Homo sapiens: one gene and its partners. The protein of the gene in region 3 purifies or fractionates together with the protein of the main gene of each other region. This does not show direct contact. Each region holds a gene or a part of one and is shown on either strand. Other genes may lie near its edges.

Evidence for each region.
Region 1: the proteins of THOC2 (region 3) and ACADSB purify together in Homo sapiens (affinity purification with mass spectrometry; one large-scale study listed by BioGRID and IntAct). This does not show direct contact.
Region 2: the proteins of THOC2 (region 3) and RBBP8 purify together in Homo sapiens (affinity purification with mass spectrometry; one large-scale study listed by BioGRID and IntAct). This does not show direct contact.
Region 4: the proteins of THOC2 (region 3) and FYTTD1 purify together in Homo sapiens (affinity purification with mass spectrometry; one large-scale study listed by BioGRID and IntAct). This does not show direct contact.
Region 5: the proteins of THOC2 (region 3) and TOP3B purify together in Homo sapiens (affinity purification with mass spectrometry; one large-scale study listed by BioGRID and IntAct). This does not show direct contact.
Region 6: the proteins of THOC2 (region 3) and ZC3H14 purify together in Homo sapiens (affinity purification with mass spectrometry; one large-scale study listed by BioGRID and IntAct). This does not show direct contact.
Region 7: the proteins of THOC2 (region 3) and POLDIP3 purify together in Homo sapiens (affinity purification with mass spectrometry; one large-scale study listed by BioGRID and IntAct). This does not show direct contact.

What each region holds. Positions count from the first base shown.
Region 1 is NC_000010.11:123,015,506-123,019,005, reverse strand, and holds part of ACADSB (short/branched chain specific acyl-CoA dehydrogenase, mitochondrial isoform 1 precursor), read right to left. Parts: intron 1-3,500. UniProt on the Homo sapiens protein: Short and branched chain specific acyl-CoA dehydrogenase that catalyzes the removal of one hydrogen from C-2 and C-3 of the fatty acyl-CoA thioester, resulting in the formation of trans-2-enoyl-CoA.
Region 2 is NC_000018.10:22,939,828-22,943,327, reverse strand, and holds part of RBBP8 (DNA endonuclease RBBP8), read right to left. Parts: intron 1-3,500. UniProt on the Homo sapiens protein: Endonuclease that cooperates with the MRE11-RAD50-NBN (MRN) complex in DNA-end resection, the first step of double-strand break (DSB) repair through the homologous recombination (HR) pathway.
Region 3 is NC_000023.11:123,628,553-123,632,052, forward strand, and holds part of THOC2 (THO complex subunit 2), read right to left. Parts: intron 3,301-3,500; coding exon 3,136-3,300; intron 1-3,135. UniProt on the Homo sapiens protein: Component of the THO subcomplex of the TREX complex which is thought to couple mRNA transcription, processing and nuclear export, and which specifically associates with spliced mRNA and not with unspliced pre-mRNA.
Region 4 is NC_000003.12:197,770,383-197,773,882, reverse strand, and holds part of FYTTD1 (UAP56-interacting factor), read right to left. Parts: intron 481-3,500; coding exon 384-480; intron 1-383. UniProt on the Homo sapiens protein: Required for mRNA export from the nucleus to the cytoplasm. Acts as an adapter that uses the DDX39B/UAP56-NFX1 pathway to ensure efficient mRNA export and delivering to the nuclear pore.
Region 5 is NC_000022.11:21,962,288-21,965,787, forward strand, and holds part of TOP3B (DNA topoisomerase 3-beta-1), read right to left. Parts: intron 3,089-3,500; coding exon 2,998-3,088; intron 2,029-2,997; coding exon 1,874-2,028; intron 1,742-1,873; coding exon 1,636-1,741; intron 607-1,635; coding exon 460-606; intron 316-459; coding exon 142-315; intron 1-141. UniProt on the Homo sapiens protein: Releases the supercoiling and torsional tension of DNA introduced during the DNA replication and transcription by transiently cleaving and rejoining one strand of the DNA duplex.
Region 6 is NC_000014.9:88,576,537-88,580,036, forward strand, and holds part of ZC3H14 (zinc finger CCCH domain-containing protein 14), read left to right. Parts: intron 1-1,448; coding exon 1,449-1,604; intron 1,605-3,500. UniProt on the Homo sapiens protein: RNA-binding protein involved in the biogenesis of circular RNAs (circRNAs), which are produced by back-splicing circularization of pre-mRNAs.
Region 7 is NC_000022.11:42,604,884-42,608,383, reverse strand, and holds part of POLDIP3 (polymerase delta-interacting protein 3), read left to right. Parts: intron 1-3,500. UniProt on the Homo sapiens protein: Is involved in regulation of translation. Is preferentially associated with CBC-bound spliced mRNA-protein complexes during the pioneer round of mRNA translation. Contributes to enhanced translational efficiency of spliced over nonspliced mRNAs.

The DNA of each region.
Region 1 (3,500 bases), on a different chromosome or scaffold from region 3:
TGATTTTGATTTCCTAAGCCAAATTGTTCATACCTGCTTGATATGGTTTGGCTGTGTCCCCACCCAAATCTCATCTTGAATTGTAGCTCCCATAATCCCCATGTGTCATGGGAGGGACCCAGTGGGAGGTAACTGAATCATGGGGGCGGGTTGTTCCTGTGTTGTTCTCGTGATAGTGAATAAGTCTCACAAGATCTGATCGTTTTATAAAGGGCAGTTCCCCTGCACTTCTCTCTTGCCTGCTGCTATGTAAGACGTGCCTTTGCTCCTCCCTCACCTTCCTCACCACAATTGTGGGGCCTCGTCAGCCACGTGGAACTGCGAATCCATTAAATCTCTTTTTCTTTATAAATTACCCAGTCTTGGGTATGCCTTTATTAGCAGTGTACCAATGGATTAGATTTTAAGTTGATCCCAATTTTATATCCCCAAGCCAAAACTTCTATACCAGAATCTGTCCAACCTCTGCTTGCTTTCTCCATAAATAATAGCTTCTGTTCTAGGTATTCTCCAAAACTGCTAAAAACGCAACCTTTCCCATCTACCAGTCTCTGATTCTTCATTCTAGTCTTTAGGAGTTCCTAACAATGCCTTGCCCTTTTAAGAATTATAGTGATTCCCTCAAAAGAGGGTTAAATAAGCCAAGACAAGACACAAGGCAAGGGAATCAACACAAAGGAAATGGGTTTGCCTGTAGTGTGACCTTGGCCAAGTCAACAATTTCTCTTTCCCAAATTACCAGTGGACAAAAATGAAACCAGACACTCACTTCTATTTTCAAAGAAATTTTAAAAGATAGGATTATTATGGAGCTAAAGTATTTTTTAATCATGTGTAAACCAAAAATAAGATTCTAAGGCCCCCCAAACCAGCTGAACAGACTTCCTCCCTAGCCAGGGGTCTTAAAATTTCACCTGAGAGACTGTTTCAGGCCATGATGGGAAGTGGGGGTCGAACATACCTCATTATACCTCACCAGCATGAACATCAACACAGAACTTTAGGCCTAATAAGAAGCATTTCAATCCATTCTCTCTGAAGTCGGCTACCTGGAGGCTTCATCTGCATGATTAAACTTTGGTCTCTACAACTTCTTATCACAACCCAGACATTCCTTTCTATTCACCCCAGGTTTTTAGCCCAACTCAACCAATTGTCAACCAGAAAATGTTTAAATTTACCTATAGCCTGGAAGCCACCCCCGACTTTCATTATGGGAGTTATTAAAAAATTATTTTAGGCCTATAGAGAGGAAAAGGTGTCCTTGGGAAGTTTTTGTTTCTTTTAAAGCAGCTCCAGGAACGTTTCTTGTCTAGCAGGAAAGCCCGGCTCTTCAAGCTGGGACAGCAAGCTTAGACATGCAAATGCCGGCCATTAGAAACTGTGTCCACCCGGTGAGGTGGCTCACACCTGTAATCCCAGCACTTAGGGAGGCCTAGGTGGATGGATCACGTGAGGTCAGGAGTTCCAGACCAGCCTGACCAAGATGGTAAAATCCTGTCTCTACTAAAAATACAAAAATTAGCCGGGCATGGTGGTAGGTGCCTATAATCCCAGCTGCTTGGGAGGCTGAGGCAGGAGAATCACTTGAACCCGGGAAGAGGAGGTTGCAGTGAGCTGAGATCACGCATTGCACTCCAGCCTAGGCAACAAGAATGAAACTCTGTCTCAAAAAAATAAATAAATAAATATAAGGTAAAGGAGTTGGGCTTGCCTTTATTGTGACCTTAGCCAAGTCAACAATTTCTCTTTCCCAAATTACCAGTGGACAAAAATGAAACAAGACACTCACTTCTATTTTCAAAGAAATTTTAAAAGATAGGACTATTATGGAGTTTAAATTTTTTTTTAATCACATAATTACTTGGGTCCAACAACTTAACAGGCATTGGGAATTTCTTCAACTCACCCTCTTTTTCAGGGAAGATAGTCAGAAGAAACACTTAAATAGATGCCAAAAGACCAGAGTTCCATATCAGGGGTTGCATATTCAACACTGGCTGGGGACAGGGGGTTACCAAATTGAGTGAAGGGAGCATGAACCACGTTCACAACCTCCTCAGTATGCATTCCACCAGCTCCATTAGCTGGCCCTGCCATGTCTTGCACTTCTCAAAACACACCGCTTCTGCTCTCACAGGTTTGTTTTTTTTATGTGACACAAATTCTGTATGTTTGCTTTTAAATATCCTTTTCCTTCTTTTGCTCCAATTCTGAATAAAACACATATGTCACAGAATTTCCTCTGATATCCTACTAAGTCTCCTTTTGCTTCTTTGCTTCTCAACATTTACCCAGGATGGTCTGAACTGTACCCCAAAGGCTGACTTGTCCACTCCTGTTTCTTCACTATCCTTCCGATGCCCCATACCCATTTATGGTTTTGGCTAGCATTTATAGCTCTTAAAGCAAACTAAATATTGCCTGAGAAGGACTCCGTATGTCTATATTTGAGTCCTTGTGGATGAACTGTAACCTAGCTTAATAGGTAGACAAGATTGAAAGCCTAACTTAGGAGTATGCGCCTGTAACAGTAGCTGCGTCTTGGGCAATCCCAGCAGCCATCCTTCAACCACTCATGGACTGCTGAGTGTTCTAACTGTGTTCAAATAAGACAATTGCAAATCTGTAACCAATCCAGCCACTGTGTACCTCACTTCCGATTTGTCACTTCCCTTCATTTGTCTATAAATTTGTTATGACCACAAGGCATCCCTGGAGTCTCTCCAAATCTGCTGTGGTTCTGGGGGCTGCCCAATTTGCTGCTCAATTAAACTCCTTTAAATTTAATTCAGATGAAGTTTTCCTTTTACCATAGCTTTAGCACTGGTCCACTTTCTAGACCCATTTCTGACCAGCTTCTAAGACACTTTCAGTTGTAAGTTTTATTAATACCTAAAACGTGTCTAAAACAGAATTACCTTTCTTCTGTCACCCTAAATTACTTTTTCTCCAGATGTCCCAATCTTTGCCTATCACTAAGCTATTTCATTTAGAAAATGTGTAGTCCATCTAATTCCTCCATTTCAAGATAATTCCCACATCTTCTCAAGTCTTCTTTTATTAACATGTCTTCCTTTCTGATCATCGGTGCTATCACCCTCATTGAGGGCCTTGTTACTCTAAAAGTGGACTTGTGAAATGGTCTAAGTGGGATGTGGCTTCAGAGTCTCACGTGATGAGTTCCTTTTGTGAGCTGCTGACTGTTTTATCTTGTAAACTCCTTTGCAAACAGCACCTTAAAATCTCAATGGCTGCTATTGAAATCTTTCAACAAAAATCTTTGAAACTGTAGATCAATTTCTATAGCCAACAAACTGAGTATGGCAAATAGTTTTAGAGAGAAAGTTCCCTACCAGGTTATAAGGAGAAAGGCCACCTTTCCCCTCCTTCATGGAGTACACTGTTACACAGGTCTACATCCGTGGTTCTCAGTCCAGTAATTTTGCCCCCACGGGACATTTGGCCATGGATGGAGACATTTTGGGTTGTCATAGCTC
Region 2 (3,500 bases), on a different chromosome or scaffold from region 3:
AGCTGGGACCACAGGCACACACCACCATGCCTAGCTAATTAAAAAAATGTTTTTTGTAGAGACAGGGTCTCGCTTTGTTGTCCAGGCTGGTCTCAGACTCCCGGACTCAAGTAATCCTCCTGCCTTGGCCTCCCAAGTGTGTGCCACTGTGCCCAGCCTGACAGCATTCTTAATAATGAGTGGGACAATTCCTTTCACTGTTAATTTGTGCAGTCTTAAGATAATGTTCTCTTTTTAGAATTTTTGATTCTATGTATAGAAAATAAATGGAGCAATTAAAAAATGAATCAAGAAATATTTATCCTGTCCTATTAGAGCCCCCAAACTTTCCCATTTCTTCAAGGTGTTTCAACTTTGCCTCACAAAACCTACCTAGTTTTCTTTGAAACTGATTACCATATTTACTAGACACAGAAAATATATTAGCTAGATGTTAATAGCAGACGCTGGCATAGGCAAAAGATCATTTATTAAAATAGTGGTATTCTGAAAATAAATATTTTAAATTCTATTTTATTATTTGTGCTTTTGATAATAAACTTGATACTGAAAAAGATTTTTAAAGGCAATAAAATTTTGTACCCAAATAAATATGCTTTAAAACTTTTGAAATTTAAAGAATTCTGAAGTTTCCATTAAATTCTGTGAGTTCGGAATTTAAAGCATAAACACTGTATATCATCAGTAACAATCTGTGACACTGATACTAGCAGCATTTGTCACAAAAGGAACATATCATGAAATGATACAATCATGAAAGGATAAAATTATCTTAAAGGATATAAAAACTCGGTCATAAATGTCTCCAGAATTTTTCAACAAAAATGGTCTGGTTTGCATATTGCTAGTCTCCAACAGAAATTAGAGCATTTTGTCTATTCTTGCCTAGTTTTAAAAGACATGGATGCAGTTTATTATATTGTTGTGATCAGTGCACATACTGTCATATTTTGCTATCATTTTATTATGTTTTGGCAAAAGAGGCAAAAATAATTCTAAACACGTGTAGCAGAGCATTCAGATTCAAGCAAGTTCCTATGGGTACATTTCTGTAGCTAAGTAAAAACTATATATCTCAAATATTACCATTCCCAACATTTCTCTTTTATTTTTTACTGACATGAAGCTTTAAAAGTCATGAGTCAATTTTGATTCCTATATATACCTTAAAACCTGCAAAGTCCAGACAAGTCCATGTTTGATGTCTTTCAAACAGCTTCTTACACTGGTTTCTACAAATGGATTCCCCACCTCCTTAAAAAAATTAAGTTCCCTTCAGGCATGTCTTTGATGTTATCATATAGAGACTCTAATTTTATATGGAACTATGTGGAACATATTGACGAAGGCATGGCCCAAACCAAAATGTTTTAAAATGACATATCTACTTAAAAAATAGTACTTATTCATTTAATACCTTTAAGAATCCATAAGTTATTTGAAATTGGGAAAGTGGCATGATCAATATAACGTACCAAAGATTATCTTCTCTTATGAGCTCATATATCCAATACCTAATATTCATAAAACACATGGACCTTATCATATACACCAACAATTACTGTATTCCTCCCTTAAAGTTATTCAGAGTATAGAAACTTTTGTGGGAATGTGATTAGAACATAACCATGAGGAGTACACTTTAAAGGAATTATCTACTACATAATATTTGCAAGCTTTATATATTCTATAATTTGATAAATATGGCATATTGTTCCTATTAAAGAGTATACCATTTGTTTCTTGATGCTTCCTCACTGTAAAATAGGGATTTCATGAAGATCCTGTAACACCAAAGAATAGGAAGAAGAAATCTGTCAAATATTTTATTTCTATTAAATTAATAGCTTATAAATAGCCAGGCACAGTGGCTCCTGCCTGTAATCCTAGCACTTTGGGAGGCCGAGATGGGCGGCTTGCTTGAGGTCAGCAATTCAAGACCAGCCTGGCCAACATGGTGAAACCTCATCTCTACTAAAAATACAAAAATTAGCCAGGAGTGGTGGTGCGTGCCTGTAGTCCCAGCTACTTGCGGGGCTGAGCCAGGAGAACTGCTTCAACCTGGGAGGCAGAGGTTGCAGTGAGCTGCGATCATGCCACTGCACTCCAGCCTGGGTGACAGAGTGAGACTCTGTTTCAAAACATAAAAAACAAAAATAGAAATCAAGAGTTTCAAGAAAGTTGCAGAATATAAAATCAACTCACTAAAACCAGTTGTATTTCTATACACTAACAATGAACAATCTGAAAAGCAAATTAAAAAAACAATTCTATTTACAGTAGCATCAAAAGAATAAAATACTTAAGAATACATTTCACCAAGGAGACAAAAAACTTGTACAATGACAATCAGAAAATGTTGCTGAAAGAAATTATAGAATGACCAGGTGTGGTGGCTCACACCTGTAATCCTAGCACTTTTGGAGGCCAATGAGGTCAGAGGACTGCTTGAGCCCAGGAGTTGAGACTAGCCTGGGCAACAAAATGAGATCCCTGTCTCTATAAAAAAATAAATTAGCCAGGTTCGGTGGTGCATGCCTGTAGTCCTAGCTACTCTGAAGGTGGAAGCGGAAGGATTGCCTGCACCCTGGAATTTGAGGCTACGGCGAACCATGATTGTGCCACTGCACTCAAGCCTGGGCAATGAGGCAAGACCTCATCTCTAAAAATTAGTAATTAAAAATTAAAAAATCTTAAAAAGAAATATAGACCGGGCGCAGTGGCTCACGCCTGTAATCCCAGCACTTTGGGAGGCTGAGGCGGGCGGATCACGAGGTCGGGAGATCGACACCATCCTGGCTAACACAGTGAAACCCCGTCTCTACTAAAAATACAAAAAATTAGCCGGGCGTGGTGGCGGGTGCTTGTAGTCCCAGCTAGTCAGGAGGCTGAGGCAGGAGAATGGCATGAATCCAGGAGGTGGAGCTTGCAGTGAGCCGAGATCGCGCCACTGCACTCCAGCCTGGGCTACAGAGCAAGACTCTGTCTCAAAAAAAAAAAAAAAAAAGAAATATAGAAGACACTAATAGAAAGGTATCCCGTGTTCATGGACTACAAAACAATATTGTTAAGATGTCAATACTATATAAAGCAATCTACAGATTCAATGCATTACCTATCAAAATCCCAAATCCCAAAATCCCAACATTTTTTGCAGAAATAGAGAAATCTGTCCTAAAGTCAAGGCAAGATGACAATCTCTTCAGCATAGCACATACCATTTTACATAATTTGGATCTATGTACATTTCTAGCATCATATCCTATCCACCTCCCCCAAAACTCCAATCTCCCATTCCATTTCCTCTTAGAACTAAACCTAACTATCCAGAGTTCCTTGAATAAAATCAAGCTCTTATCTGCAAACTTTTGCATGTGCTATTCTCTCTACTCAGAAAATTCCCTCCCCTTCCACCATCTTCCTTGCCTGGCTAATTAGACTTAATTATCAAGCCTGGTCTGACATAAACCATGCACAAACCCACTTCCCCATGCAACCAC
Region 3 (3,500 bases):
TACAAAAAATTAGCCAGGCGTGGTGGCGCAGGCCTGTAATCCCAGCTACTTGGGAGGCTGAGGTGAGAGGATCACTTGAACCCCAGAGGCAGAAGTTGCAGTGAGCTGAGATCATGCCCCTTCACTCCAGACTGGATGACAGAAGGAGACTGTCTCAAAAAATAAAAATTAAAAAAAAAAAAAAAGCTGGATCAACACTAAGAAAAGTTATGAGAAATTTGTTTTAAGACTGCTAAGTAGGGTGACCAATTGTCAGGGTTTGCTGGGGATTCAGGGATTTCTGAGGATTTAAGACTTCAGTGCTAAAACTGGGAACATCCCAGGCAAACCAGGACCAACTGGTTACTCTACTGCTAAGCCAAATAAATTTTTCTGTGAAAAGCTGTGGTATATTGAAGTTTAAAGCATGTGAGAACTGATGCTGCAGCTTCTTTCGTTTGACTGGTTTATCCTAATTTGGGGGAAAAAACAGAGGAATGCCATATTCTTAATTGTATGAGGAAAAAAAATTGTTAGTACAATGGGAGGGGCTGCAGAGATGTGTATGCCAAATATATTATACATATATATACACACACAAAAATATATATATTTTTTCTATATATTCTATATATATGAAGATAACATATATATGAACATATATATTATACATGAACACACACACACACACACACACACACACACACACACACACATATATATGAAGATAACACAGAGTTGCTGCTATTGTTTCACATCCTTCAGTCTCTTTAGGATGAAAGAGCTCTCATCCAGAAAATTTTGTTTAAGTTAGGTATCACCCTTCATACGAACCTAAAGGAAGTCCTAAAACTAGTTACTTCCTTACGTTAGAAAATCACTTAAATCATTCTATTTGTGCTAAACACGTAACCCAAAACGAGATGATCAAAGGTTCTGCTTCCAGTTCTACACTGTGATAGGCAAAAGAGTCTCAGCTCCTTACAGCTCAGTTACCTGCCTTCCTTCCTGAGTGCTCAATTTTACAATTGTTCTAGAATTTTACAATTGTTCTAGAAGTGGGAAGATTTATGCTCTGTTATCCCCATTTTAGAGAGCATGCTGACAACCACTGAGACCACGTAAGTGACAAAGCTACAAAGAACATTAGTTACGAAAAAGGAGTCCCAATTGCATCAGAAACCTGAGGGAATAGCAGTTGGGAAAACAGAGAGTGTTTTTTAATTTAGAGGACAGGTCTTATTGAAGGTAACTAATATGAATCTAGATGAGCAGAATGACTTCTGCTAAGGTTCTAACAAAACGGGATAAAATAGGGCTGACATTATCTGCATAAAAGACAGCCTAATTACCTGTTCTGGGCAAGATCTAGAATATGAACTAGGTTAAAAGCCTATCTTTCAGACCTGTGTCTCAAGGTGGACCACAACCTCAACAATTAAAACTAAAAATTAGTTTATAGGTATGAGAGGGTTACATGATAGCTCCAATCTCCCCAGTCCTCTGGGTCTGAATCTGTGATTTCTATTGCTAGGAACCCCATAGTCACTATCTAGTTAGAAAAATAGGCTTGGTCAGAAAAGAAGGCTATACTTCGTATTTACCCAAGATGAATATGTCCTTGTCTAAAGTCAGTTTAACTCCCACTTCAAGTTCACACCTTCAGTCAAATGAAGAGACATAACAGTTCTACATTTCAAATTGCCTGGGGAACTAGACTTATGGAATAGAACTGATATCCACAATTATTGCTGTACTTCTCACTATTGTTCAAAAATCTCGTCTCAAGAATCTGAGCAGGCCAGGCACAGTGGCTCATGCCTATAATGCCAGCACTTTGGGAGGCCAAGGCAGGCGGATCACCTGAGGTCAGGAGTTTGAGACCAGCCTGGCCAACATGGTGAAATCTCATCTCTTCTAAAAATACAAAAATTAGCTGGGTGTGGTGGCGGGCACCTGTAATCCCAGCTACTTGGGAGCCTGGGATAGGAGTATCGCTTGAACCCGGGAGGTGGAAGTTGCAGTGAGCTGAGATTGCGCCACTGCACTCCAGCCTGGAAGACAGAGCGAGACTCCATCTCAAAAAAAAAAAAAAAAAAAAAAAAAAAATCTGGGCAGCGTTTGGCTGAATTATCCTCAAGAGAGCCTGCTGATAGTTTATAGAGGGGACATAGCAATCACCTAATATACATTTTCACTCTCTCAACGAAGGCTCTTCAACAGAGGCTTTCACTCAAGAAGCAAAAGCAAGGATCCCCAGGACAGCTTGGATGCCCATCCAGCACAACCACAAGATTGCTGGGAAACACCTTTTCCAGAGAGTGGCATGCTGCCTACAGATAAAAGACTTATATCTGACTTGGCTATACAGCCACTTTCATTTAGTTTTCTGTTTTCTTCCAAGCCTGAGAGGGAAATGCCATTTCTTTGTTTAGGTTTTTGTATCTCTTAAAAGACAAAGGTAATATTTTACACAAGTAAGAGAGAAAAAGTAGCTTGAATGACCTGCTCCATTTTCTGAGCTGGAAAAGTTCAGCCAACCACAGACAACCAGGTGTTCCTGTTTGCTAGGATTCCATATTGCTGATTAGTGTGTTCACTTAGCACAGGGCAGGTCAGAATTCCTAAGATGAAGAAATTCTCCCACCTCTGTCTGTCAAGAAATCAGGTACCCTCTTGCACAGCTGAGACTGATCTACCATGGGGTGTGACAACAGTAAGACGTTACACAAAGACGGCAAACAATTCTCTGGATTGAGAGGATCTAAAGGGGAAGAAGCAGCCTAACACCACTCCCTTATTGTCTTTTTCCCTTCAGAGTGTATACATAACACAGGAATTTCTGCATAGTGCTAACAAAGTGATAATTAAATCAAGTAGCAGTTAGTTAGGAAAGAAGTGGGAGACTGTAGCAGTTGATATGTAAACACTAACAGCAGATGTTTGATTAAATGATCAATTAGACTCCAAATTTCTCATCACCTTTTTTGTATACCTCTACCACACAGCTTCGTACCCCTATTGGAAACAAAGAAGGGATCCTAGTTTAGGGCCAAGACCTTCCCCCAAAATCTGTAGTGATATGTACTTACAGATAAAACCGTTAAGAAATAATTTGGATCGTTCTTGAGCGGCAGCAAAGACACTTGTACTTACCGAAATATGATGGGCATACATTGGCCTAGACAGGAAAAATGCTGCATCATGGGGTGTATGAAATTCATTACAGAGTACATCAATTGAAGGCACTCGCTTTATATAATCTTCTGTGCTCAGATTAGATGCTAAAAACCCACCAAACTGCACCAGGGTATCATGACACTAAATTTAAAAAATAAGACAAAATCAACATATTTTCCAAAGTGATTAAGAAGTCATTTTAGGAATATTTTAACAATTAAGAATCCAAATTTTATAACTTAAAAGGACTTTAGAGACTATCTACAAGTATAACCACATGACCATATTACAAAAAAAGATGCCAAGGCCCTGACAGGTTGACTAATCCAAGGTTTTACTAG
Region 4 (3,500 bases), on a different chromosome or scaffold from region 3:
AGTGGGGCGTGTGCGTGAGTGCAGCGGAGGGGCCCGTGCTATTCTAGAACTTCCTAACCCAGTGGGGTGTGTGCGTGAGTGCAGCAGAGGGGCCCACGCTATTCTGGCAACAGTTCCCTGTTGGAATTCCTACATGAGAACGAGTGGCAAATACAGGTTTATTCCCAAATAACGAGTTAAATTCTTATAAGACATTGCTATTGAGGGTAAGAAAAGATGGGAAATAAAAAACATACAACAGGAAGAACTAATCTACTACCACGTGCCTCACATCCTGAACCCAATGCTGCCTATGACTGAGGCTTACTAAAGGTGGCTGCTCAGGATCCTCTTTGGGAAAAAACAAACAAACAAACAAAAACACTGCCAAAGTTTTTAAATACCTTCAGGCCTCTTCTGAAAAGAAAAGTTGCCTGACGAGTATCTTTCTGATGATTTAATTTATTTCCACTCCTGGTAAAATTAGCTGGAATGTTATTTCTGCAACAAAAACACATAGGCCATGCTAAGCCATTTAACTACTTTCAAACATCTTGAGGAAAAATAAGCAAAAATAGTTAAATTCATAGGCTGCAAACATGAGGTGCAAGAAACAAACAACTCTGAATTATTTGCTTATTAACATGAAGCTACTGAGATTTGATTAACAAATACCTCCCTCCGAAGCATAGCACATAACCACGTGTTAATTTCAAACCACTTTATCTTCCAAATATTCAATCCTCTAATATCCCATATATCTTCTGAAGACATTAATAATCACATTTTTAGTGCTATTTCCTATATTTGGTGAAAACATAACTTTACAATTTATAGGATTAGTACAAAGAAAAACCACACATAGGCCAAACTGAAGACGTAAAATAAACTGAAGACCAAAAATAAAGAGAAAGGTTTGAAAAATAACATCTCCTCCTCCAGCTTTCTCTTCCTTCCTCACTCAGAAACCATTATGTATTAACATAAACCATAGAGGCCAGGCATTATGGCTCACACCTGTAATCCCAGCACTTTGGGAGGTTGAGGTGAGTGGATCACTTGAGGTCAGGAGTTTGAGACCAGCCTGGGTAACATGGTAAAACCCCGTCTCTACTAAAAACACAAAAATTAGCCAGCCTTGGTGGCACACGCCTGTAGTCCCAGCTACTCAGGAGGCTGAAGCATGAGAATTGCTTCAATCAGGGAAGCAGAGGTTGCTGTGGGCCGAGATCACGCCACTGCACTCCAGCCCAGCGACACAGACTTCATCTCAAAAAATATACAAACCACAGAAAAACTTATACTCTTCTATTTCTTGTTCTTTCATGCACAGAACAATGCTCTTAATTATGACTGTCACCAATTCTTTTTTTTAATTTTAAGTTCTGAGACACGTGCTGAACGTGCAAGTTTCTTATGTAGCTATACATGTGCCATGGTGGTTTGCGGCACCTAATTTCTTTTGTTTTCTATAGGAAGTTAGTGAAGTACGAAAAATTAAAATTTCATATTTATCTATGAAATATTCAATCCTCTAACATTCCATGTCTTCAACTGATGTATTGATAAATATGAAACACTATATAAACGAGTGTTTAACAGATTCCCTAGTCTTACCTCCAATCTTTCAGAGATTCAAGTTCAAAACTGCCCTAGCTAACCCAATTAACATGTAAGTCTCACGTAAATGATGGGTTCTTATTTGAGAAGGTCCCCTTTCACAAAAGGTACTATCAAGTGATTCCCAAAAGATGATGGTTAAAACTGCAATTCCAGCCATTCCATTTTTTGTTTTTTTATTTTTATTTTTTTGAGACAGAGTCTCACTGTCACCCAGGCTGGAGTGCAGTGGCACCATCTTGACTCACTGCAACTTCCGCCCCCCAGGTTTAAGCGATTCTCCTGCCTCAGCCTCCCAAATAGCTGGAACTACAGGCATGAACCACCACGTCCAGCTAATTTTTGTATTTTTAGTAGAGATGGGGTTTCACCATGTTGGCCAGGCTGGTCTCGAACTCCTGGCCTCAGGTGATCCACACGCAGCGGCCTCCCAAAGTGCTGGGATTGCTGGCATGCACCGGTCACCACATCGGGCTAATTTTTGCATTTTTTTTTTTTTTTTTTTTTGAGACGGAGTCTCGCTCTGTCGCCCAGGCTGGAGTGCAGTGGCGGGATCTCGGCTCACTGCAAGCTCCGCCTCCCGGGTTCACGCCATTCTCCTGCCTCAGCCTCCCAAGTAGCTGGGACTACAGGCGCCCGCCACCACGCCCGGCTAATTTTTTGTATTTTTAGTAGAGACGGGGTTTCACCGTTTTTAGCCGGGATGGTCTCGATCTCCTGACCTCGTGATCCGCCCGCCTCGGCCTCCCAAAGTGCTGGGATTACAGGCGTGAGCCACCGCACCCGGCCTAATTTTTGCATTTTCAGTAGAGATGGGGTTTTGCCACATAACTCCTGACCTCAGGTGATCTGCCTGCTTTAGCCCCCCAAAGTGCTGGGAATACAGGCATGAGCCACTGTGCCCAGCCACTGCATTTTTTAAAAACCTCATTCCAGGTTTTTTTTGCTGACTTATCTTCCACGAAAGATAAATAAATAATACTTGAAACTGAATAAGGAAACTTCACACCTCATCAACTTCATCTACTTTGTCCTTACAGAGAACAGAATGCCATAACAACAGATCATAATTTTTCTTTTCTTTCTTTTTCAGAGATGGGGGTCTCACTATGTTGCCCAGCAGGTTAGCCCTGAATCCTGGGCTCATGTGATCCTCCTGCCTCAGCCTCGTAAGTAGCTGGGACCACAGGCACATGCCACTGCACCCAGCTCACAGGCCATAATTTTTGGTTTTTATTATTCAATTTAGTATAAAAATAATTTCAGTTTAACAAGTGTTCATGAAGAATTCTCCCTTTCTAGTTTGATTTTTCCACAAATAACATACATTGTGATTCAGTGTTCTAGTAAGAGCCATCCAGACTGAGTAACAAATTGAGATTTCAGAATTCTCAATTTTGAATAATTCCCACTAAGATGTTAAGAGTTCTACCAGGGCTGGGCACAGGGGCGCATGCCCGTAATCCCAGCACTTTAGGAGGCTGAGGTGGGAGGATCACTTGAGGCCAGGAATTGAGACCAGCCTGGACAACATGGTGAGACCCTGTCTCTATTAAAAAAAAAAAAAAATTAGCAGGGCATGGTGGCATGTATCTGCAGTCCCAGCTACTCAGGAGGCTGATGTGGGAGGATCGCTTGAGCCCAGGGCAGGCCAAGGCTCCAGGGAGCAGTGATGGCGCCACTGCACTCCAGCCTCAGCAACAGATCGAGAAGCCCTGTCTCAAAAAACAGGGAGAAAAAAAAGAGAGTTCTACTAAAGTGATCAGCTTTTGCAATTTTATTCCATATGTCAAAGAGGTAAAGAAGCAGAGTGATGCTTTTTAAAAAGCTTATATCGGTTAACTTCATCAGTAAGAATTCATCTAATAAACAAGCTATTACTGGATACATCCATGTGGATG
Region 5 (3,500 bases), on a different chromosome or scaffold from region 3:
TGGGTCACCAGTTTCCAGATACCAGCCCATGGAGGGGTGCTGGGCTGGGCACACAGGGCTGGCGGGGCAGCTTTGTGAGTAGACTCGAAGCCTGAGTACTGGAGACGGAGCCGGCTCTGGGGCCTGGGCAGGCGCACCCACCGATGCCATGCTTCTCCATGAGCGTGATGAGCTCGGCCTCCGTCAGGTAGTCGGGTGGGTTCGTCTGCTTCTCCAGCATCTTCACCTCGCCCACAGGGAAGGCATCACCCCGCTGGCAAGTGGGCAGGCTCTCCTCCAGGGGCACGCTCTGCCAGGGCATGACCTCCGTGAAGCCTGGAGAGATATGCGCCGCCACTCAGGGTCCCCAGCCTGGGTGGCCGGGGCCTCAGACCCTGGGCCTCCCATCCCCAGACACGATGTAGAATGTTTGTCTGCCCATGAAGGCACAGAGGAGGAAGGCTGGGCCCGTGGTGTGACCTGGTGAGAGGACGGTCTTCCCGGAGCAGGTGAAGAGCTCGGGCCCAATTCTGAAGGAGATGGTGCTCTGCAGGTACTTGCAGTCATGGCTGACCGTGGCGATGAAGTGTCTGGTGATGTACTCATAGAGCCGCCACGCGTCACCCCCTGCAACAGGCCAGGGCTAGTCAGTTGGGAGCCAGCTGGGGGCTCTGGCCGTGAGGAGCCCCCAGTACTCTCGCTCGAGCAGCAAGCTCCTGCTTACAGAGCCGCTGTGCAGGACACACTGCAAATCCTGGGGAAGGAGGAAAGAAAATGTGCAGGAAGGCCGGGCGTGGTGGCTCATGCCTGTAATCCTAGCACTCTGGGAGGCTAAGGTGGATGGATCACTTGAGGTCAGGAGTTTGAGACCAGCCTGGCCAACATGGTGAAACCCCGTCTCTACTAAAAATACAAAGAAATTAGCTGGGTGTGGTGGTGGGAGCCTGTAATCCCAGCTACTCGGGGGGCTGAGGCAGGGTGAACTGCTTGAACCTGGGAGGCAGAGGTTGCAGTGAGCCGAGATCGGGCCACTGCACTCCAGCCTGGGTGACAGAACAAGACTCTGTCTCAAAAAAAGAAAAAAAAAAAGCAAATGCGGAGGAAGGGAACACAAGCCTCCATGCCTCAGTGGTTTCTTTCTGGCTGCGGCTCCCACCATCCTGCACAACCTCCTGTCCCTGCTTCTGGCGGGACTGCTCTTCAGGCATTGGCCTGTCTTTCCATTGTCTCGTGACATGACACCATTGCTTCAAACTCAGACTGTCCACAGGTGGCTCCTGTCTCTACCTGCACTGCTCTCCCTTCCTCATTTGCCTTCTCCTGGCACTCGGACCACTGGTACCACCTTAGGCCAGCTGGGAGGTAGGAGGTGTGCTGCCCCCTCCCCCACACCGCCACTCTCTACCCTGGTTTCATTCATGTCCCCTGTGGCGTCTGCCCCCTTGCCTCCCTGCAACAGCACCTGCTGCTACCTCTTCACTCCTGTCCTGGTCCCATAGCAATGGAGCTCATCTTCCAGGTGGCCCCCCATCCCCACAGCCAGGGCAGGCAGAGGCTGAAGGAGCCCCCACATTGCCAACAGGGCCTGCAACCTTCACTGTCGCAGCTCGCCCTTCCCTCCCTGGAAGCACACCGGGTATGGGATGAGAGCGGTACCTAATTCGGCCTCTGTGGCAGACTTCATGGGGGTGATGGGGGGATGGTCGCCGGCGTCATGGCCTTTCCGCGGGCGGTTGATACCTTCTGCTAACAACCGCTTCACCTGAGGGAGAGAAGACAGAGCAGAGTCTGTGGCTGGGCTCGGCTGCCTGCCTGGGTTTGGCTGACGTACCAGACCTGGTCCCAAGGCCTCAGTGACACACACACATGCTGAGGCCGGCCCGGCTCCACTCACCGTGTCGGCCCAGTAGGGGTGGTTGGCCTGCTGCCGCAGAGAGCCCTTCAGGTCAAAGTTCTCAGGGTAGTGGGTGGTCTCTGTCCGTGGGTAGCTGATGTAGCCTTGCGTGTAGAGCCGCTCAGCCGTCTGCATGGCGTGCTGCGGCCCCATGCCTGCGAGAGACAGGAGGTTCTCAGAGGGCCAGGTACGTGGGGATGGCCAGCTGCCTGCCCTGGCCTATGCACTCAGGCTCCCCCATTGTGGCCGGCCCCTCCTGGAGGGTGACGGTGGCTCTGAGCAGGCACAGCTGGAGTGCAAAGCTGCTGGCCGGGTGGGCACCTATGCCACACAGTCTTGTATGAGGCTGAATCCCGCACCCGTAAGGCTGAATCCTACACCCAGGATGGGCCTGATGGGAAACGCCACTCACTCTACCCCACGGTGCATCCTCATGGGGCTCATGGCCATGGGGATGACACATGGCCTTCAGAGCACCACTCCCCATGCATTGTCCATGGAGCCATAACCATACCTCGGGGTTGGCTGACGACAGAGTTAGCACGCAGCCCCATTTTGAGCCCTTGGGTGTTTCTGTCCTCACAGCACTTTGGGGCCACTCAGGGGGGCTCGTCCTGCTACTCCCTGACCAGCAGAGGCAGGCGCTTAGCTAGCAACCACTCCCAGCATTGCTGCCCTCTGAGGACGCTGGAGCCACCACTCAGTGTCCACTGAGAGGACACTGCCCATAGTTCCCTGCGGGGGTGGGGGGCACCAATGCCTAGGGGCTGACAGCTGCCAGAGACCACCAGCTTTCCAGCCCAACCCCCTCCTCGTTACTAAGGAGAAAAGACTGAGGAGATGAGGCTGAGGGGCGACGTTCACACTGGTTCCCTGAAGGTGACATCTGGCTGGGGCCTCTCCCCTCACCAGGGATAGCTGCTCAGGGACTCTAACATCAGGAGGTCCCCTCAGGTGGTGACCAACTTTACCACCTTTACAACCTAAGGATAAGTGAAATCCTCCTGAGGCTCAGATCCCCTTGAAGCCTTGGGCACCATCCTGCAACCCTGGGCACTCGCTGCTCCAGGCTGAACCTGCCTCAGGAAGCCTTCTGGTGACTTGAGAGAAATGTCCCTACATACCCAGAGAAGAGCTGGCCACACGCAGCATCTCCACAGTGTTCAGGGCCAGGGGCCTCTGCTTGGCCTTTTCTTTCCTGCTTGTGGCCTCCACCTGGAAGACAGGACAGTCAATGATTTGGGGAAGGAGGAAGACACCACCATAGAGGGAATCAAGATGTGTGGACGAAGGGTCTGGTTTCATTCATCTGGTCTCCCTGTTTCTCCAATTCATTCTTCCCAACAGTCTAAAGACTTGATTGAATATTTATTCAGGACCAGGAAAGGAAAAAGAATGAAAATTCTTTTTTAAAAAAAAATTTTGGCTGGGTGTGGTGGCTCACGCCTGTAATCCCAGTACTTTGGGAGGCTGAGGCGGGTGGATCACCTGAGGTCAGGAGTTCGAGACCAGCTTGACCAAGATGGTGAAACCCCGTCTCTACTAAAAATACAAACATTAGCTGGGCATGGTGGAACGTGCCTGTAATCCAAGCTACTCGTGACGCTGAGGCAGAATTGCTTGAACC
Region 6 (3,500 bases), on a different chromosome or scaffold from region 3:
AGCTGATTCTGAAATGCAAACAACTGATGGGTGTCATTTTGTGTTGTCAAATTCTGTACTCTCTGGCCGACCTGTTGTAGCCAATGTGTAAACTTGTGTTAAGAAGCTGATGGTAATGAGCTACTCTAAAAAGATTTAAGTTTTGCTGTGGATTTGGTGGGTGTACTTACAGCATTGCCCTGCTTATCCACTCTCTCGCTTTTTTTTGTGACCCCCCTTCCTAAAATGAGGTAAACTGTAGCCATCAGTTTTTTTATTTGTTTTCTTTTTTTGAGGCGAAGTCTTGCTCTGTTGCCCAGGCTGGAGTGCAGTGGTGTGATCTTGGCTTACTGCAATCTCTGCCTCCTGGGTCCAAGCGATTCTCCTGCCTCAGCCTCCCAAGTAGCTGGGATTACAGGCGCCCACTACCATGCCAGGCTAATTTTTTTGTATTTTTAGTAGAGGCGGGGTTCCACCATGTTGGCCAGGCTGGTCTCGTACTCCTGACCTCAGGTGATCACCTGCCTCCTCGGCCTCCCAAAATGCTGGGATTACAAGCGTGAGCCACCGCGCCTGGCACCATCAGTTTTTGATCCTGATACTTGTCTGTCCTCTTGGTTCTCCTCATCCCTAATTTAACCTTGAACACAAAATTCAACAGGTTTTGGCATATAGAATAAAGATTATCAGGCAAAGGCGCACTCTTGACCTAATGATATATCTACATTTCATTTCCTGATCTATCAGCAATATTAATTGTCTAGAATGATGAGAAGTTTAGAGAAGTTCCATGACTTTGAAATTTTCTTTCTTTACCTAGGTTATCTAAATTACAATTTGAAACTCATATAAGATCATGAAGCTAAGCTTAAATAAACCGCATTTTGTTGAAAATGAATACATATGTACTATATTGTATTCATGGTATGTGGTTGTATGGATATTGTTTACATATGTTTGGATAAATAGGTTCAGGTATCTATCTCAGTAACGTAAGAAAAAATGAATGGTATCTATGGATTGAACTCCTCATATATATGTTCTTTTCTTTTCTTTTTCTTTTTTTTTTGGAGACAGAGTCTCACTCTGTTGCCCAGGCTGGAGTGCACAGTGGTGCAATCTCGGCTCACTGCAACCTCCGCCTTCCGGGTTTAAGCAATTCTCCTGCCTCAGCCTCCTGAGTAGTTGGGATTACAGGTGTGTGCCACTATGCCCGGCTAGTGTTTGTATTTTTAGTAGAAACGAGGTTTTACCATGTTGGCCAGGCTGGTCTCAAACTCCTGACCTCAAGTGATCCACCCACCTTGCCTCCCAAAGTGCTGAGATTACAGGCATGAGCCACTGCGCCCAGCCTGAACTCATATGTCCTAAACCAAAGGAGGCATTTATATTTAATATGACATAGTCACTGTGGAGTTTTGACGTATTACTGCATTTGTATTTCTATCTTTTTTGCTTTTATGTGAAAGTTCCACAGAAACAGACACTTCCAGTTGCTCCCAGAACTCGAACTTCTCAAGAAGAATTGCTAGCAGAAGTGGTCCAGGGACAAAGTAGGACCCCCAGAATAAGTCCCCCCATTAAAGAAGAGGAAACAAAAGGAGATTCTGTAGAAAAAAATCAAGGTAATAACTTAAATGATGTTTCACTCTTTACTACAGTTTTTTCATGAGGCATTGAATATTTTCCAATGGATTTTTATGAAATATTACACTATGAAAAAAGTGATGATTAAGCCCAGAAATAGAATGAGAAGAATACCATGAGGAAGGTTCATACCAACACTTCAGAAAAAAATTTTTTTTTTAAAGAGGTAGGGTCTTGCTGTGTTGCCCAGGCAGTCCTCAAACTCCTGGGCTCAAGCAGTCCTCCTGCCTCAGCATCCTTAGTAGCTGGAGGTGTGTACAAGTGTGTGCCACTGCACCCAGCCCTTTCTAGAAATTTTTGAAAGTCTTTTTATTGTGGAAATTTTTAATATTCTCAAAAATGGAAAGGCTAGTACAGTGAACTCTCATGAACCCAGTCATTAAGCCTTAGTTATTATCAGAATTTTGCTGGTCTTTAGATAGCTCCTTCTTAAAGATATATTTATTTCTGCATTCTTTCTTTTTCTCTTTTTGTTGATCCTGCCCGTTTACCTGAACTTGAAATTTTAGTTACCTTTAAATCTCCCGTCTCTTAAGCATCCTGTCTCTGACCTCCCATATGTGTCCCAGCAACCCTAATTTATCCCCTCGTGCCTAACATACTTCAGTTTGCTTCCAGGTTTTTTTTTTTTTTTTTTTTTTTTGCTTTTTTCTCAGCTTTCTCCCCCAATTCCTATACAATCTTTTGACTTTGAAAGTGTGTCTCTCATCTTCTGACTCCTTTGTGAAAGTATCTCTCCCCTCCTCCTCATTACCCAGAACTAACGCTATTAGTTTGGACTTTTGGTGTCTGTTATCTGACCCCTGGGCCTGCACAGCCCTTCTCCATGACTCTTCAGACCTTTTGTCTCTTTTGTCGTCAAGAAGGATTCTTTTTTCTTCTGTTTCTTTTTCTACTAAGATTTGAATTTTAAGACCCCACCAAAAAAATCTATATGCTTATTATGTTATTTCTCACATACTTTTCAAGAACCTTGGAATATATTTTTTCATTTCTTCAAAACTGTCCTTTAAATTGTTCCAGGTTTCATGAAACCTTATGATTTCAGAATTGTCAATTCTGTATTTGTTTCCTCATTGTGTCTCTTTAAAAATTTTTGACTGTATTGTTCAGTTTGCCATGACAGCGTTATATACTATTCTGATAATTGATAGGCCTGAGGACAAGACCTGTTTGGTCCCCAAACAGCAGATAGGTACCAATTGGAAAATGTGAATGGGCCAAATTGAGAAGAGGAGCTGAAACTGAGGAGGGATTTTGCTCAGTGCAGTGGCAGATGAGGCTGATCTAAAAGGACTGCAGTGGTCTACTCCCTGTGGAGTCTGTAGTGTGTTGCACCAAGGTTTTCTTCAAACACAGGACTCTACGTGAGAGTCTTGGAGTGGAATCAGATGGAGCAGGGAAACAGACAATAGAGAAAAGGAAAGAATGTCAGATAAAAATAGGAGAGGAAAACAATAGGAAATCTCAAAGCAAGGTGCCATATTTTTTAACATCACAAAATCAACAGAAGAAGGTTGTTGATTCTGAAGTTAGAATAGCTATCCAAAGCAAACTTTCCCCTAAAATGAACAACAGAAAAGTATCAAGGTCAAGTCCTGTGCCGAATTAAAAGATAAAAGGGAATAAAAGACAAAACAGCATTGTTTCAATGAAAGCATGCTGAAAGGTATACCAAAAAGAAATACAATTTCAAAGTGAGCTAGAAGACATTATTTAAATAATACAAGACAAAGCCAAGAAAAACATAAAACAGAAGAACTTTGAGGCTGGGTGCAGTGGCTCATGCCTGTAATCCCAACACTTTGGGAGGCTGAGGCAGGAGGATCACTTGAGACTAGCCTGGGCAGCATAGCAAAACCCTGTCTCGACAA
Region 7 (3,500 bases), on a different chromosome or scaffold from region 3:
TGGTGTGATCTTGGCTCACTGCAGCCTGGACCTCCTGGGCTTAGTTGATCCTCCTGCCTTGGCCTTCTGAGTAGCTGGGACTACAGATGTGCATCATCACTTGCAGCTAATTTTTTTTTGGGGGGGGGGGTAAGGTTATAGATTAACAGCATCCCAAGGCAGAAGAATTTTTCTTAGTACAGAACAAAATGAAGTCTCCCACGTCTACTTCTTTCTACACAGACACAGTAACAATCTGATCTCTCTTTTCCCCACATTTCCCCCTTTTCTATTCGACAAAACCGCCATCGTCTTCATGGCCCGTTCTCAATGAGCTGTTGGGTACACCTCCCAGACGGGGTGGCGGCCGGGCAGAGGGGCTCCTCACTTCCCAGACGGGGTGGTGGCTGGGTGGAGGCGCCCCCCACCTCCCGAACAGGGCGGCTGGCTGTGCGGGGGCTGCCCCCCACCTCCCTCCCAGACGGGGCGGCTGCCGGGCGGAGACGCTCCTCACTTCCCAGACGGGGCGGCTGCTGGGCGGAGGGGCTCCTCACTTCCCAGACGGGGTGGCCGGGCAGAGAAGCTCCTCACCTCCCAGACGGGGTGGCGGTCGGGCAGAGACACTCCTCAGTTCCCAGATGGGGTCGCGGCCGGGCAGAGGCGCTCCTCACATCCCAGACGGGGCAGCGGGGCAGAGGCTCTCCCCACATCTCAGACGATGGACGGCCGGGCCGAGACGCTCCTCACTTCCTAGATGGGATGGCGGCCGGGAAGAGGCGCTCCTCACTTCCCAGACTGGACGGCCGGGCAGAGGGGCTCCTCACATCCCAGACGATGGGCGGCCAGGCAGAGACGCTCCTCACTTCCCAGACGGGGTGGCAGCCGGGCAGAGGCTGCAATCTCGGCACTTTGGGAGGCCAAGGCAGGCGGCTGGGAGGTGGAGGTTGTAGCGAGCCGAGATCACTCCACTGCATTCCAGCCTGGGCAACGAGCACTGATTGAGCGAGACTCCGTCTGCAATCCCGGCACCTCGGGAGGCCGAGGCAGGCAGATCACTTGCGGTCGGGAGCTGGAGACCAGCCCGGCCAACACAGCGAAACCCCGTCTCCACCAAAAAATACAAAAACCAGTCAGGCATGGCGGTGCGCGCCTGCAATCCCAGGCACTCGGCAGGCTGAGGCAGGAGAATCAGGCAGGGAGGCTGCAGTGAGCCGAGATGGCGGCAGTACAGTCCAGCCTCGGCTCGGCATCAGAGGGAAACTGGGGAGAGGGGGAGGGGGAGGGAATTTTTTTTGTATCTTTTGTAGAGACAGGGTTTTGCCATGTTGCCCAGGCTGGTTTCGAACACCTGGGCTCAAGCGATCTGCCCGCCTTGGCCTCCCAAAGTGTTGGGATTACAGGCATGAGCTACTGCTCCTGGTGTTTTTTATTTTTTAGAAGTTTTTTTCTTAACTCTTCCAGCTCTGCTGTTTACTCTTGACCCATGCTTATTTAATTGATGCTTGAACCAGGTACAGTGAAGTTCAAGTCCATTCCTCACCCCTTAGTAGCTCTTGGGATAGTTAATCTCCTTGGTTCTGAGTTTCCTCATTTATAAGATGTGAACAATAACCTGATTCACGGGGTTGTAACATTTAAAGGACGTCTAAAGCTGGGCATGGTGGCTCCATACTTAGAAGGCTGAGGCAGGAGGTCAAGGCTGTAGTGAGCTATGATCACTGCACTCCATCCTGAGCAGCAGAATGAGATTCTGTCCTTTTAAATTTTTTAAAATATGTTTTTGAGACAGGGTCTTGCTCTGTTGTCCAGCCTGGAGGACAGTATCTCGATCCTGGCTCACGGCAACATTGCAGTCTGGGGCTCAGGTGGTCTTCCTGCTTCAGCCTGTGGAGTAGACTCATGCTGCCATGCCCAGATAATTTTCTGCTTTCATTTTTATAGAGATGGAGTCTCACTATATTGCCCAGGCTGGTCCTGAACTCCTGGGCTCAAGCCATCCTCCTGCCTCAGCTTTCCAAAGTGCTGAGATTACATGGTGTGAGCCACCATGCCCAGGGAGTCTCGCTATGTTGCCCGTGCTGTTCTCGATCTCCTGGGCTCAAGCCATCCTGCCATTTGGCCTCCCAAAGTGCTGAGATTACAGGCATGAGCCACTGTGCCCAGCCTTGTTTCTTAAAAAAAAAAAAAAGTCTGTGTGAAAAATTGTCAACCTGTAGTGAGTAATACTCAGAAGTTTTCATTGATCATGTCCTTTATTTTTTTTGAAACAGAGTCTTGCTCTGTCGCCCAGGCTGGAGTGCAGTGGTGTGATCTTGGCTTGCTGTAACCTCCATCTCCTGGGTTCAACTGATTCTCCTGCCTCAGCCTTCCGAGTAGCTAGGATTATAGGCGCGTGCCACCACGTCTGGCTAATTTTTGTATTTTTAGTAGGGACGGGGTTTCACCATGTTGGCCAGGCAGGTCTTGAACACCTCACCTCAAGTAATCCATCAGCCTCGGCCTCCCAAAGTGCTGGGATTACAGGTGTGAGTCACTGTGCCTGGCCTAGCTGCAAGTTTCTGAGGTCACCCCAAAGCATAGTCCCAGTTTGTCTATGGCTTTGTAGGCCATGGAACACGAAGCCTAGGGTAGCCCAGTCCTAGGGAGGGTGGATGCCATCTACCACATACAACCATTTCTTTCTAATCGTGCATGCCGACCCCCTGAACACTCCCTTCCTTTGGCCCTGCTTTCTCTAGTGCCTCCATCTCCCAGAGTCCTCACATTAAAAAAATAGGACAGGAATGGCCAAGTAAACCTTAAGCCTTATCTGATTAATTGTATAAATGACCCTTCTACCCAGAACCCACTGGAAAATCTTTAAATCTGAATTTGCCACTCCAAAGAGAAAAATGATAGCATGCATCACTGCCTGTTTTAGTCCGTTTAGGCTACTATAAGAAAATACCCTAAGCTGGGTAACTTATAAAAAACAGAAACTGCCGGGCGCAGTGGCTCACGCCTGTAATCGTAACGCTTTGGAGGCCAAGGCAGGCGGATCACGAGGTCAGGAGATCGACAGCATCCTGGCTAACACGGTGAAACCCCATCTTTACTAAAAATGCAAAAAATTAGCCGGCCGTGGTGGCGGGCGCCTGTAGTCCCAGCTACTTGGGAGGCTGGCGCAGGAGAATGGCATGAACCCGGGAGGCGGAGCTTGCGGTGAGCCAAGATTGCGCCACTGCACTCCAGCCTGGATGACAGAGCAAGACTCCATCTCAAACAAAACAAAACAAAACTGAAGAAAAGAAACTTCCTTGTCACAGAGAGTCTGGGAAGTCCAGGATCAGGATGCTGGCAGATTCCATGTCTGATGAGGGCCTGCCTGCTTCCTGGTTGTAGATGGTCTTTTTGCTGAGTCCTGACATGGTGGAAGGGGCCAAGGAGCTTTCTGGGGCTTCTTCCTTATAAAGGGCACTAATCCCATTTGTGAAGTCTCTGTCCTCATGACTTAATCACTTCCCAAAGGCCACCACCTTCTA